Linked DNA regions of Homo sapiens. The protein of the gene in region 1 purifies or fractionates together with the protein of each later gene. This does not show direct contact. Each region holds a gene or a part of one and is shown on either strand. Other genes may lie near its edges. The genes, in order: TMEM38A, NCEH1 and LZTFL1.

The links.
Region 2: the proteins of TMEM38A (region 1) and NCEH1 purify together in Homo sapiens (affinity purification with mass spectrometry; 3 studies listed by BioGRID and IntAct, with this or other methods). This does not show direct contact.
Region 3: the proteins of TMEM38A (region 1) and LZTFL1 purify together in Homo sapiens (affinity purification with mass spectrometry; 2 studies listed by BioGRID and IntAct, with this or other methods). This does not show direct contact.

What each region holds. Positions count from the first base shown.
Region 1 is NC_000019.10:16,678,125-16,681,875, reverse strand, and holds part of TMEM38A (trimeric intracellular cation channel type A), read right to left. Parts: intron 1,893-3,751; coding exon 1,736-1,892; intron 1,480-1,735; coding exon 1,295-1,479; intron 1-1,294. UniProt on the Homo sapiens protein: Intracellular monovalent cation channel required for maintenance of rapid intracellular calcium release. Acts as a potassium counter-ion channel that functions in synchronization with calcium release from intracellular stores.
Region 2 is NC_000003.12:172,709,449-172,713,199, forward strand, and holds the start of NCEH1 (neutral cholesterol ester hydrolase 1), read right to left. Parts: upstream 1,620-3,751; 5' UTR 1,537-1,619; coding exon 1,399-1,536; intron 1-1,398.
Region 3 is NC_000003.12:45,828,419-45,832,169, forward strand, and holds part of LZTFL1 (leucine zipper transcription factor-like protein 1), read right to left. Parts: intron 2,721-3,751; coding exon 2,655-2,720; intron 2,573-2,654; coding exon 2,495-2,572; intron 198-2,494; coding exon 21-197; intron 1-20. UniProt on the Homo sapiens protein: Regulates ciliary localization of the BBSome complex. Together with the BBSome complex, controls SMO ciliary trafficking and contributes to the sonic hedgehog (SHH) pathway regulation. May play a role in neurite outgrowth. May have tumor suppressor function.

The DNA.
Region 1 (3,751 bases):
ATCCACTCCAGGAACTGCTGCACCAACTGGGTGCCTGAGATGTACTACTGGACCAGGGAATCGCATCTGGGGCCATTTTGCCCCCAAGGAAGCATCTGGCAATGTTGAGAAACACTTTGAGTTGTCACAGCTGGGGAGGGAGCGCTACTGGTATTTAGTGAGTCGAGGCCAGGGAGGTGGCTCACCATTGTATAATGCACAGGTTGGCTCCCCATAGCAAGGAATAACTGAGGACACCATGGCTCAATGGAGGGTGATTCTAGGTCTTGGCACTTTGTGGGTACCCATATCTGGTGGGCAGGAAGCGAGGATAAAGTGCCCAATGGTTTTTGGCACTTGCTCAGGCCTTCTTTCCCTGCTTTCCTGTTACTCCTTGGCCCACTTCTCCAACTTTTAATGTTGAATTATCTCTTTCTCCCCTAACTTCTGTCCATTTTTGCTTTATGTATTTTGGTGCTCTGTTTCTAGGTGCATATATGTTTATAGTTGTTATATCTTCCTGGTGGATTGACCCTTTTATCATTATAAAACGTTCTTTATTTCTAATAACATTTTCATTATTACTTTATTTTTTAATTTTAATTTTTTAGAGACAGACTCTTGCTCTGTTGCCCAGCTGGAGTGCAGTGGCACAATCATAGCTCACTGTAATGTTGAACTCCTAGGCTGAAGTGATCCTCCCACCTCAGCCTCCTGAGTAGCTAGAACTACAGGCATGAGCCACCATGTCTAGCTCTATTTTCTGCACACGAAAGGGTCTGTAGGCTTCACTGGCAAAAGGGCCATGGTCCACAAAAGTTAAGAACTCCTATAGCTAGAGCTCTAGAGAAGAAGGGGTTCTCACCTGCAGCCATTTTGCCCTCTAGGAGGCGTTTAGCAATGTCTGGAGACAATTTCTTTGTCACAGCTGGGGACAAGTGTGCTACTGGCATCTCGTGGGTGGAGGCCAGGGGTGCTGTTCAACATCCTATAGTGCACAAGGCAGCCCCCACCACAAAGAATGATCCAGCCCCACATGTCAGTAGTGCTGCAAGTGAGAAAACCTGCTCTGGCAATGCTGGCTTTTGTCATCATCATCACTGTCTTAGGTACCCCTGACAGTAACATTTCTAGAAGAATCTTCCCATTTACCCTAAAGGTATCGGCTGATACCTGTAGGGAGGTTTGAACACCTACTGCAGTCTTTATGCCCCTGTGCCTGGAGCAATGGCTTTCCTAGCTGGGGTGCCTGGTAGTACCACTGAACCAAAAGTTCTCCACTGGGATGATTTTTCATTGTCATCATCCTATTTACCTTTGACCCACCCAGTTGCAATCATGACGAACCACCCGTGGTGGTAGTGGTGATGGGCGTGATGGATGCCCACCGCGATCTTGCGGACTCGCACCACCTCCTTCATGGCCACGAAGATGAGTTTCACAGGCAGGAAGCAGACACACTTGTAGAAGAGGTCCAGGGGGCAGAAGAAAATCAAGTACCTTTTGGGGAGAGAACAGTGAGTGCCAGGGGATGGGCAGACTGTGAAGGATGGGGGTAGGGAGCTGTGGTTATATCAGACCACCCTCCCCAACGTGCTGTGCCTAGACCAGAGATGGGCATGGAGGGCAGCATATTCAGGGCCATCATGAGGGCTGTTGCTGGTGCATTCTAATTCCTCCAACCTCTCTCCTCCCTGGTGCCCAGGTTGTTGTTTCCCCCACCCGGCTCTGCTCTCCCATGCCCAGCATGGCTTACCAGACAGCTGAGGCCAGCAGGATGCTGGAGTTGTTGCTGAAGTAATCGATCAGTGGCTCCCCAAGGAGCAGATCAGCCAGGATGTAGCTCCCGAAGCAATGCAGCATGGCGCACAGCCAGGACGCGATGGGGTGGCGCCGGGACAGTTCGACTGCTCCTGGGAGGCACAGGAGTGTCCCCCATCATCACCAGCATGCCAAGGGCAGGCTTCACTCCCATATGCTCTGGTCAGCCTATCCTAATCCAGAGCGCCCACCCAACACTGTGCAGTTTGTAAGTTTCAGAGGAGGAACCAAGGTTCAGAGAGGCTGTACGCATGCCTGAGGTTGCACAGAGAAAATAGAGAGCCGAGTGGGAGTCCTTTCCTTCATGCCCAGAGAGGTGGCAATGATGATGACACTAGTTCACATTTAGGACTTAATAAATCCTCATCAGTGTCCCAGCCAAGTGATGGCTTTTATTATCAGGAGTCTCATTGTCAAGAGGAGACTGAGGCTTGGTGAGACGGGCCAGCTTGTACCTGGGAGTACTTTGAAATTGCTACTCTGGGCCGGGCATGGTGGCTCACACCTGTAATCCCAGCACTTTGGGAGTCCAAGGTGGACAAATCACTTGAGGTCAGGAGTTCAAGACCAGCCTGGCTAACATGGTGAAACCCCGTCCCTAAAAATACAAAAATTAGCCGGGAACGGTAGTGCATGCCTGTAATCCCAGCTACTCAGGAGGCTGACAGGAGAATCACTTGAACTCAGGAGGTGGAGGCTGCAGTGAGCTGAGATTGCACCACTGCACTGCACTCCAGCCTGGGCAACAGAGCAAGACTCCATCTAAAACACACACATACACACACACACACACACACACACACACACACACACACACACACACGAAACAAAAGAAATTGCTATTCTGACCTCAGCTGATCCCAAGATCCCTATGAGCTTATGCTGGTATTCTTTTTTTTTTTTTTTTTTAACTTTTTTTGTTTGTTTCAAACAGAGTGTCACTCTGTCACCCAGGCTGGAGTGCAATGGTGCAATCTCAGCTCATTGCAAATTCTGCCTCCCAGGTTCAAGCGATCCTCCTGCCTCAGACTCCCGAGTAGCTGGGATCACAGGCAGCCACCACCATGCCTGGCTAATTTTTGTATTTTCAGTAGAGAAGGGGTTTCACCATGTTGGCCAAGCTGGTCTCCAACTCTTGGACTCAAGTGAACCTCCCACCTCAGCCTCCCAAAGTGCTGGGATTACAGGCATGAGTCACCGTGCCCAGCCTTATGCTGGTATTCTTACACCTGCTGTCTTAAAAAGAATTTTTTTTTGTAAAATATACATTAAATTTATCACTTTACTTTTTTTTTTTTTTTTTTTTTTTGGACACAGGGTTTCACTCCCATCACCCAGCCTGGAGCGCAGTGGTGCAATCACGACTCACTGCAGCCTTGACTTCCTGGGCTCAAACACTCCTCCCACCTCAGCCTCGAAAGTATTTGGGACTACAGGCACGCGCGCCACCATGCCAGGCTAATTTTTTGTATATTTAAAGTAGGCACGGGGTTTCGCCATGTTGCCCAGGCTGGTCTCAAACTCCTGGGCTCAAGCCATCCACCTGGCTCAGCTTCCCAAAGAGTTGGGATTATAGACGTGAGACACCATGCCCAGCCCATTTTAAACATTTTTAAGTGTATAGCTCTTTTTTTTTTTTTTTTTTTTTGAGACAGAGTCTCACTCTGTCACCAGGCTGGAGCGCGGTGGCGCGATCTCGGCTCACTGCAACCTCCTCCTCCCGGGTTCAAGTGATTCTCCTGCCTCAGCCACCCGAGTAGCTGGGATTACAGGCATGCGCCACCACGCCCAACTAATTTTTGTATTTTTAGTGGAGATGGGGGTTCACCATGTTGGCCAGGATAGTCTCAATCTCTTGACCTTGTGATCTGCCCACCTTGGCCTCCCAAAGTGCTGGGATTACAGGCATGAGCCACTGCCAAGTGGCTGGCCAAGTGTGTGGTTCTATGGC
Region 2 (3,751 bases), on another chromosome or scaffold:
CTTTCTTGACACCAGTGCTAAAGAAGGGGATGATCATTTTCACCATGTCAACATTATAGGAAGCAAGAGGAAAAGAAGGGGGGCAGGGGTCTATAGCTTCATAGACCTTTCCTAAGAGACAAAAGGGGCTTTGGAGGTGAGAATGTGGCTGAATTCAGGAAAAGCAAATCCACGCTAGGAATGTGCTGCAATATCCTAGTAAGGGGACTTTTCATAGGATAAAGCCCCACAGATTATGTAATCCTACACATAATGAGTGGACAGGGAACAGGAACATAAACCCTCTGGGAAAATCATGACTTTTTTAAAATCAGCTTTCTCAGGTTGAAATGATTTTTTTTCTCTTTCTCTAGTTGTCATTTCTGAAAGAAAGAGTTTATAAAAATATTCTGAGATTAAAGCCCAAGGTTGTGGGGAGGGAGGAGGCTTGGTTTTGGAGAAGGTTAGAGTTTAGATAGAGCAGGCTGCTCAGAAATACTGTCCAATCAGAGGGCTCAGCCTTGGCTGCAGACTGTAGTTTAGATTTTAGATTCTCTGACACTAAAAATAATGCCTCTTACCATGGAATAAACCAGAGACAGTTATATTTTCCTGTGTATGGAAGGAATGAACACACGCCCATGATACAGTGGAGAGAAATGTTACCCTCCCAGGTTAAGGCAGGTAACCTCGCTCAGGAAAAGGTTATCTGACAGCCAAGGACATAAAATAAATGCTGCAGGGCAAGCAGAAAACATGCATCATGCAAACCAGGGCTGCCGCCTCCTCACCTCCTTTCAGCCAGCCCAGCCTCCCAGTCCTCTTTCTTGGGCTGAGCTGAGATCTGCCTCGGGTGAAACGAGAGATCCCTATGGTTCCTCAAGTGCTTGGATGGAGAGCCCTGCCTGCTGTCTCCGGGAACGGAGCGCTCCACAGCCTGGGGACATTGCGAGACTGCCCTTGCCTGCTTCTGCTTCTAAGGTGGCTGCATTCCCAGGAACCAGAGCCTGCTTTTCCCGAGCTCTCCTAAAAATATTTATCCTCTGCCGGTCCCTATGGGAGAACGACAGTGTGAAGAAGGGTGGTTTATAAACTGCTTAAGGATTTGCCTTTTGACGTTGCAAACCAAGGAAGAGGAAGATATTTAGGACAGACGAAGGTTTAAACAGTTGTCAAATTCTATTCAAGCACTTCTTCCCCGTCACAAACGCAGACGGGGAAATGCAGATCTAGCCCGCTGCTAGCAAGGAGGCGAATGCGATACCCTGAAAATTCCCGACTGGACCACCTCAAAAAGCGACAGCCTCAATGCATTAGGAAAAACCTGCGTTTTCGTGGAACCCGGCGGAGGAATTTTGTATCCCCTTCAAATATTGCGTAAGAGGAGGAAGAGAGAAGCAGCGCTGGGCTGCACCTCACCACTTGCTGTGCACCCCGGAAAGTGGCGTCCAGCAGCATCAGCTTCCAGGGGTCGGACACGGAGCCAGGCAGCGGGATGTAGACGTAATAGGCGGCCAGCGCCACCAGGGCGGTGAGCAGGACACAGGACGACCTCATCTTGCCCTGGCTCGGCTCGCCAGCGGGCTGGCAAAGAGGAAAGGGCGATACCACCCGGAGACCTCCGGCAACTTTCTGCCCGCGGCAGCTGCTCATTCACGCGTTTCTTATAAGCCCAGGAGCCAATCAGAGGCTGCGTCGGGAGGAAGTTGGAGCGCGGACATGCCCCCTCTACGGTGTCCTTGCAAAGTGTGGCAGTCACTACAGGTTTGAGGAAGGCTCTGTCGCTGCTCTGGCCGTAGGCACAGCGGACTCTGGAGGACACTGGTTTGTACTGCATGCGTGTGAGGATGGCTTTCCTCCTGGAAGGTCTCAAACGGAAAATAGTTTCAGTGTGACGAGTCTCTGGACAAAGCAAGTGGGTCATTCTGACTCAGAGTACTGAGAAAGGATATAAAAATTCTGTTTTCTGGAGCCAGACTTGGAGTGGTTTGTAAGTTCTAGCTGATATATGGCAAAAGAAGATATTAAATTCTTCTGGCTCAAGCAATGAAAGGCCAGTAGTACATCTAGCACCCAAGTCTTGGTTTCTAAATCCTATGCTCCAATAAGAGGAACCACGGCTTTTTGACACAACCTCTGGAGAAAAGGCTGATACCAGGGCTGGGGCTGTAAAGTACAAGATGAACCTGTTGTGCCAGAGATGCGGAAGTGCTCAAAAAATGATAGGAACTGGTCAAAGGTCCACAGCTGCCAGCTTGAAGGGTCTCCCAGTGGCTGAAGCTGGGATAATTTTACCATCAATATAAATCATCATAATGGATAACCCATTGATTAAAATAAAACTCAACAATCTATATTAATATAAATAAATGAGGAAAGAAGAAAGGCTTTTCTTAAAATAGAATGCCAGCTAGTATCCATAGAAAATCATAAATGAATGCTAAAACTAGAGGGTAAAAATTTGACACAGAATTTTGGTCCTTCATCAGAAGATCTCTCCACAAATTACTACAAAGGGAAAAAATAATAACTTTTTATTGGAGAAACGTGTGGATATCACCTGAAAAATTCTTTCAGTGAGTCAATGGTAGCAGAAATACACTTAAACCCAGATTTCTTGTTAATGATTGGGGGTGAGGAGGGGTGGGTGAGTACTGAATGGGAGAGAGAAAACTTCACTAGCAAAATTTCAACCAGAAATCCAGAAGGAAAACAGTTAGAAGACCTGTTTCAAGAAAGTGGTAGGATGACAACTCCAAACTTATTGATGAAGGTCTTAAAACACCTAGTATATATAATTATGCATCTTAAGATGGTAATTTTAATTTAATCAAATTAATAGAAGTGAAATAACCATAAATTTGGTTCTGATAATGAGATTTTTAGGAAACAGTTGGCTTCTTCTTCAACATTGAAGGAAAACTGATAAGAAGGGCACACTTTCATGGTATTTCAAGCAAGTTCTCTCTCTCTTTTTTTTTTGTTTTGTTTGTTTTTGGTGTTTGTTTTTTGTTTTTTTTGAGACGGAGTCTTGCTCTTTTCGCCCAGGCTAGAGTGCAATGGCACGATCTCAGCTCACTGCAACCTCCACCTCCTGGGTTCAAGCAATTCTCTTGCCTCAGCCTCCTCAGTAGGTGGGATTACAGGTGCCCACCACCACACCTGGCTGATTTTTGTATTTTTAGTAGAGATGGGGTTTCACCATGCTGGCCAGGCTGGTCTCAAACTCCTGACCTTGTGATCTGCCCACCTCAGTCTCCCAAAGTGCTGGGATTACAGGCATGATCCACGGCACCTGGCCTCTCTCTCTCTCTCTCTCTCTCTCTCTCTCTCTCTCTCTCTCTCTCTCTGTCTTTTAAGTTACTGGTTAAACTCATAACTCTAAACAGATAGGAATGTTTATGTTTATGTTTGTGTGTGAGTATATGTGTAGAAAATTAGAAGCTATTCTTTTTTTTTTTGAGATAGAGCATCGCTCTTGTCACCCAGGCTGGAGTGCAATGGTGCAATCTTGGCTCACTGCAACCTCTGCCTCCCGGGTTCAAGCCATTCTGCCTCAGCCTCCCGAGTAGCTGGGATTTCAGATGCCTGCCACTAAGCCCAGCTAATTTTGTATTTTTAGTAGAGACAGGGTTTCACCGTGTTGGCCAGGCTGGTCTTGAACTCCTGACTTCAGGTGATCCACCTGCCTCAGCCTCCAAAAGTGCTGGGATTACAGGTGTGAACTACCACGCCCAGCCAGAAGCTAATCTTTATGGGTGATTAGGAATAA
Region 3 (3,751 bases), on another chromosome or scaffold:
CTTAAACATGGTCTTCTGACCTTTTCAGCCATGTGCAGCTGCTCCTGAACCCTGAGTAGATCGTGCTTGGCTGTCGCCAGATTCTCCTCCAGTGACTTCTGGTTTTCTGTCTTGTCATTAAGTGTCTTCTGAAACTCACTCTTTAAGGCAGCGACAGTGTTTTCTAAGTTACTTAAGTCTTGGGCCTTTATAAAATCCTATGAAAAATAAATGCATGCATGTAATTTCATGTTGATATTCTAAAAATAACTGTTTTAGAATGGTGATTCAACATCATAGGAGATGAAAAAAATGATGTATGTTTTGTGTGCATGCCAGCCTCCCTTGCCAGCCTAGGTAAGTGCCAGCCCCTTCAGAGTCACCAGCAGGCCAGTCCATTGTCAGCCCTGGGTACGTGGTGTCTTGCACACAGCCGACACTCAGTAGCCACTGAATTCCAAATACATAAAATATGATTTGTGAACTGCTGGTATTTCCATCCAAGATGTGTGTACCAGGGTTGAGATGGCAAACAGGTTTCATTTTGAAAAGCCAAATTTAAAAAAATCCTCAAAGAAGTTTGAATTCTTCAAAATGATAGAAAAAATGATAAAAGTAATATAATTTATACCAAAAACTTAATAGACATATGTTTTAGTCATTATTTACAAGGAAATAATATGAGAGCACAATTACTGATTACATGGTTTTCTAAATTTTTAAGATTTTAAGTTTTTTATATTCATGAGATATGTGTAATTTTTGCATACTTTGACAACTATAGCATAAGACAGGCACTGGATCTTCTCTCTTCCTGGATCTTGTTTTTGACTGGATAAGATTCATGACAGAAAAAACATTTGTACTGATAAGACAGTAAAATGGTCTACAATTGGTTAATATGTAGATGAAGAAATACTTAGTACTTTCAAGTGGCTCTCACGCCTGTAATTCCAATACTTTAGGAGGCCAAGGGAGGAGGACTACTTGAGCCCAGGAAATTGAGACCAGCCTGGGCAACAGAGCAAGACCCCGTCTCTACAAAAAATATAAAAAATTAGCCAGGCATGGTGGCACATGCCTGTGGTCCCAACCACTTGGGAGGCTGAGGTGGGAGGATCGCTTGAGCCGGTGAGGTCAAGGTTGTAGTGAGCCATGGTTGCACCACCGCACTCCAGCATGGGAAACAGAATAAGGCCCTGTCTCAAAAGAAAAAAAAAAAAAAAAAAAAAAAGTACTTTCAACAGAAGAAAAAAAAAATCTTTCCTCATTTTTGAAATCTGGTCTTTGAAAAAAAGATTTTCATTGCAACTAATAAAAGCACGTATTCACTGGTTGTTCTTGTGTCCAAAATCTTAAAGTAAAATTGGAGCAAAGCCCCAAAAAGCTTTTAAACAAATTCATCAGCCACATGTGTTTGCAATTGTTTGACTTAGGAGAAATTATAAAGCGGTTCTGGAACATTCGTGTTTTTATAAATCTATTGTCATTGGCATATAATGGTTGAAAATCATTAGCTATATAAGAAGTATCCTCCTATTTTAAAAATATCTACAGATAAAATGGTTCAACGTCTGAGATTTGCTTCAAAAAAACATGGCTGGTGGGAAGAAGAAAGTAGAGGTACAAATGAAACCAGACTGGCCATGCATTGGTAACTGCTAAATAGAGTGAAGAGTGCATGGGGGTTCATTATACTATTCTCTCTACTTTTGTGTATGTTTGAAATTTTTCATAGAGAAAAGATTAGCAAAAGCCCAGTGAAGCAGATTTTGGGTTTGTTTACCAGACATTTGCAATGAGAGTATGACCACTAGAAAAGCCAATGCTGTACTGAATATCTACCCAAATGGTCCTGCTCACAGGAAATCATACTGCAGCATGCACACTCAACAGAAAGTCCACAGGAGACAGACTGTACATACAATGACTTCCCGCAGGCGGAGTGACATTCAGTCATTACATTCAGACAAGCATGAAGAACTACAACACTGGATTTCATTGTACTCTATGGTGCCGGCGGGTACAGACGCATCTGCAGATTCATAATCATTTTGTCACACTCATCAAAGGCAAACTTAAGTAATGTTCAGTATAATAAAACCCAAATATAAACCAATTAAAAACTTTTCTTTTCATTTTCTTTCCCCTCCACTGTAATTGGATGTCAAAGTGAGAGGGGAAACTTAAAAAAAAAAAGTGAGAATATCTTGCATACCAGGAAGATTGTAGAAAAACTTAAAAAATAAATGTGAGAATATCTTGCATGCCAGGGAAACTGCAGGTGTGTGAGCTATGTACTGTCCCCTCTGCCCTAGAGGATGGACAGAGGGAAGGTCACTGGTTCTCACCAGGCCTTTTGGGGGCAAGAATGTCCCAACACATGACAATAGAGGCATTTGTCTCAGGGAGTAGCAGGGGTGGGGTACAGTGAGCAGTAACTAAGACTTAATTTTAAGTTTATAACTTCATTCTACTTAGAAAATGTGAGAAAGGTAGCTAAAACTTGTTTCACCTTTTGATTTCCTTGATCAAGCTGTAAATCTTGCAGTGCTTTTTCTAGTTTTGACTTTTCATCCAGTGCATTTGTAGCCTATAGTGAAGTTTAAACAAAACACTTTCAGTATTTAATCTGTAGGCAGTTCAATAATTGTGTCAAAACATTTCTCAGTTACCTGTATTTCAATGGTCTTCAACCTTGACTTCAATTTCTCATTCTCTTCTTGAAGTCTTAAAATTTCCTTTGTGAGTAAATTCAAATTTTATTATATTAACCAAAATATTTTAATATTTGAAATTATTACTTGTTTCACTTAAAAATCTAATTTTTAAATTTAAATTACATAATAGCTCAAAAATGTACTACTGATATTTTGGTAATATCCCAATTTCATCCAGCCTATCAGCCTCAGTATCTGTGAGTCAGCTTTGGATCTAAGACATCTAGTTTCTTTTCTTTCAGTTTCTCAGACACATCTTCCCTCTTTCAGTCCTCTGTTTTCTGTTTTCAAATTTTTTTCCAAAGACCCGCTTCCCTGCCAACTTTCTCCTAGCTGGTCCTGCAAATCCTGGGTCTATTCTCAGCCTACACTGCACACTGTTGCCCCTTATCCTGAGAACTCCTTCACTTCAGTACCATGCTCAAGCCCACAGATGCTTCTGACTGAGGTGAGGCCAAACACTTTTGTTCTTATACAGCTCAAACATTTGAATCATCTGTGTTATTTTTCAGTAGACTCAAATAAACACATCAGCCCAGTCAGAGGGCACTGCACTCTGTTTCAAGTCATGCCGCCTCCTGTCTGACCACTGCCTGTTCTGTTCTCCTGCCCAACACACTCACTTCTCTTTCCTCTACAATTTAACTGGTCTTCATCCTTCAAGGCCCAGCTTAGGTACCCCTTTACCCAAGAGCCTGTTCTCACCTACTGTTATCCACACACAACTGAGTCTTCTCTGCTACCCAGTATGACACCTGTAGCACACAGGAGAATATTCTCTGGTCTCTATTTCTAGAACATCAGTTCTACTTTCCCAATAAAACTATTACATTTTTGGCCGGGCACGGTGGCTCACACCTGTAATCCCAGCACTTTGGAAGGCCGAGGCGGGCGTATCACAAGATCAGGAGATCAAGACCAACCTGGCTAACATGGTGAAACCCCATCTCTACTAAAAATACAAAAAATTAGCCGGGCGTGGTGGCAGGCGCTACTCGGAGGCTGAGGCAGGAGAATGGCGTGAACCCGGGAGGTGGAGCTTGGAGTGAGCC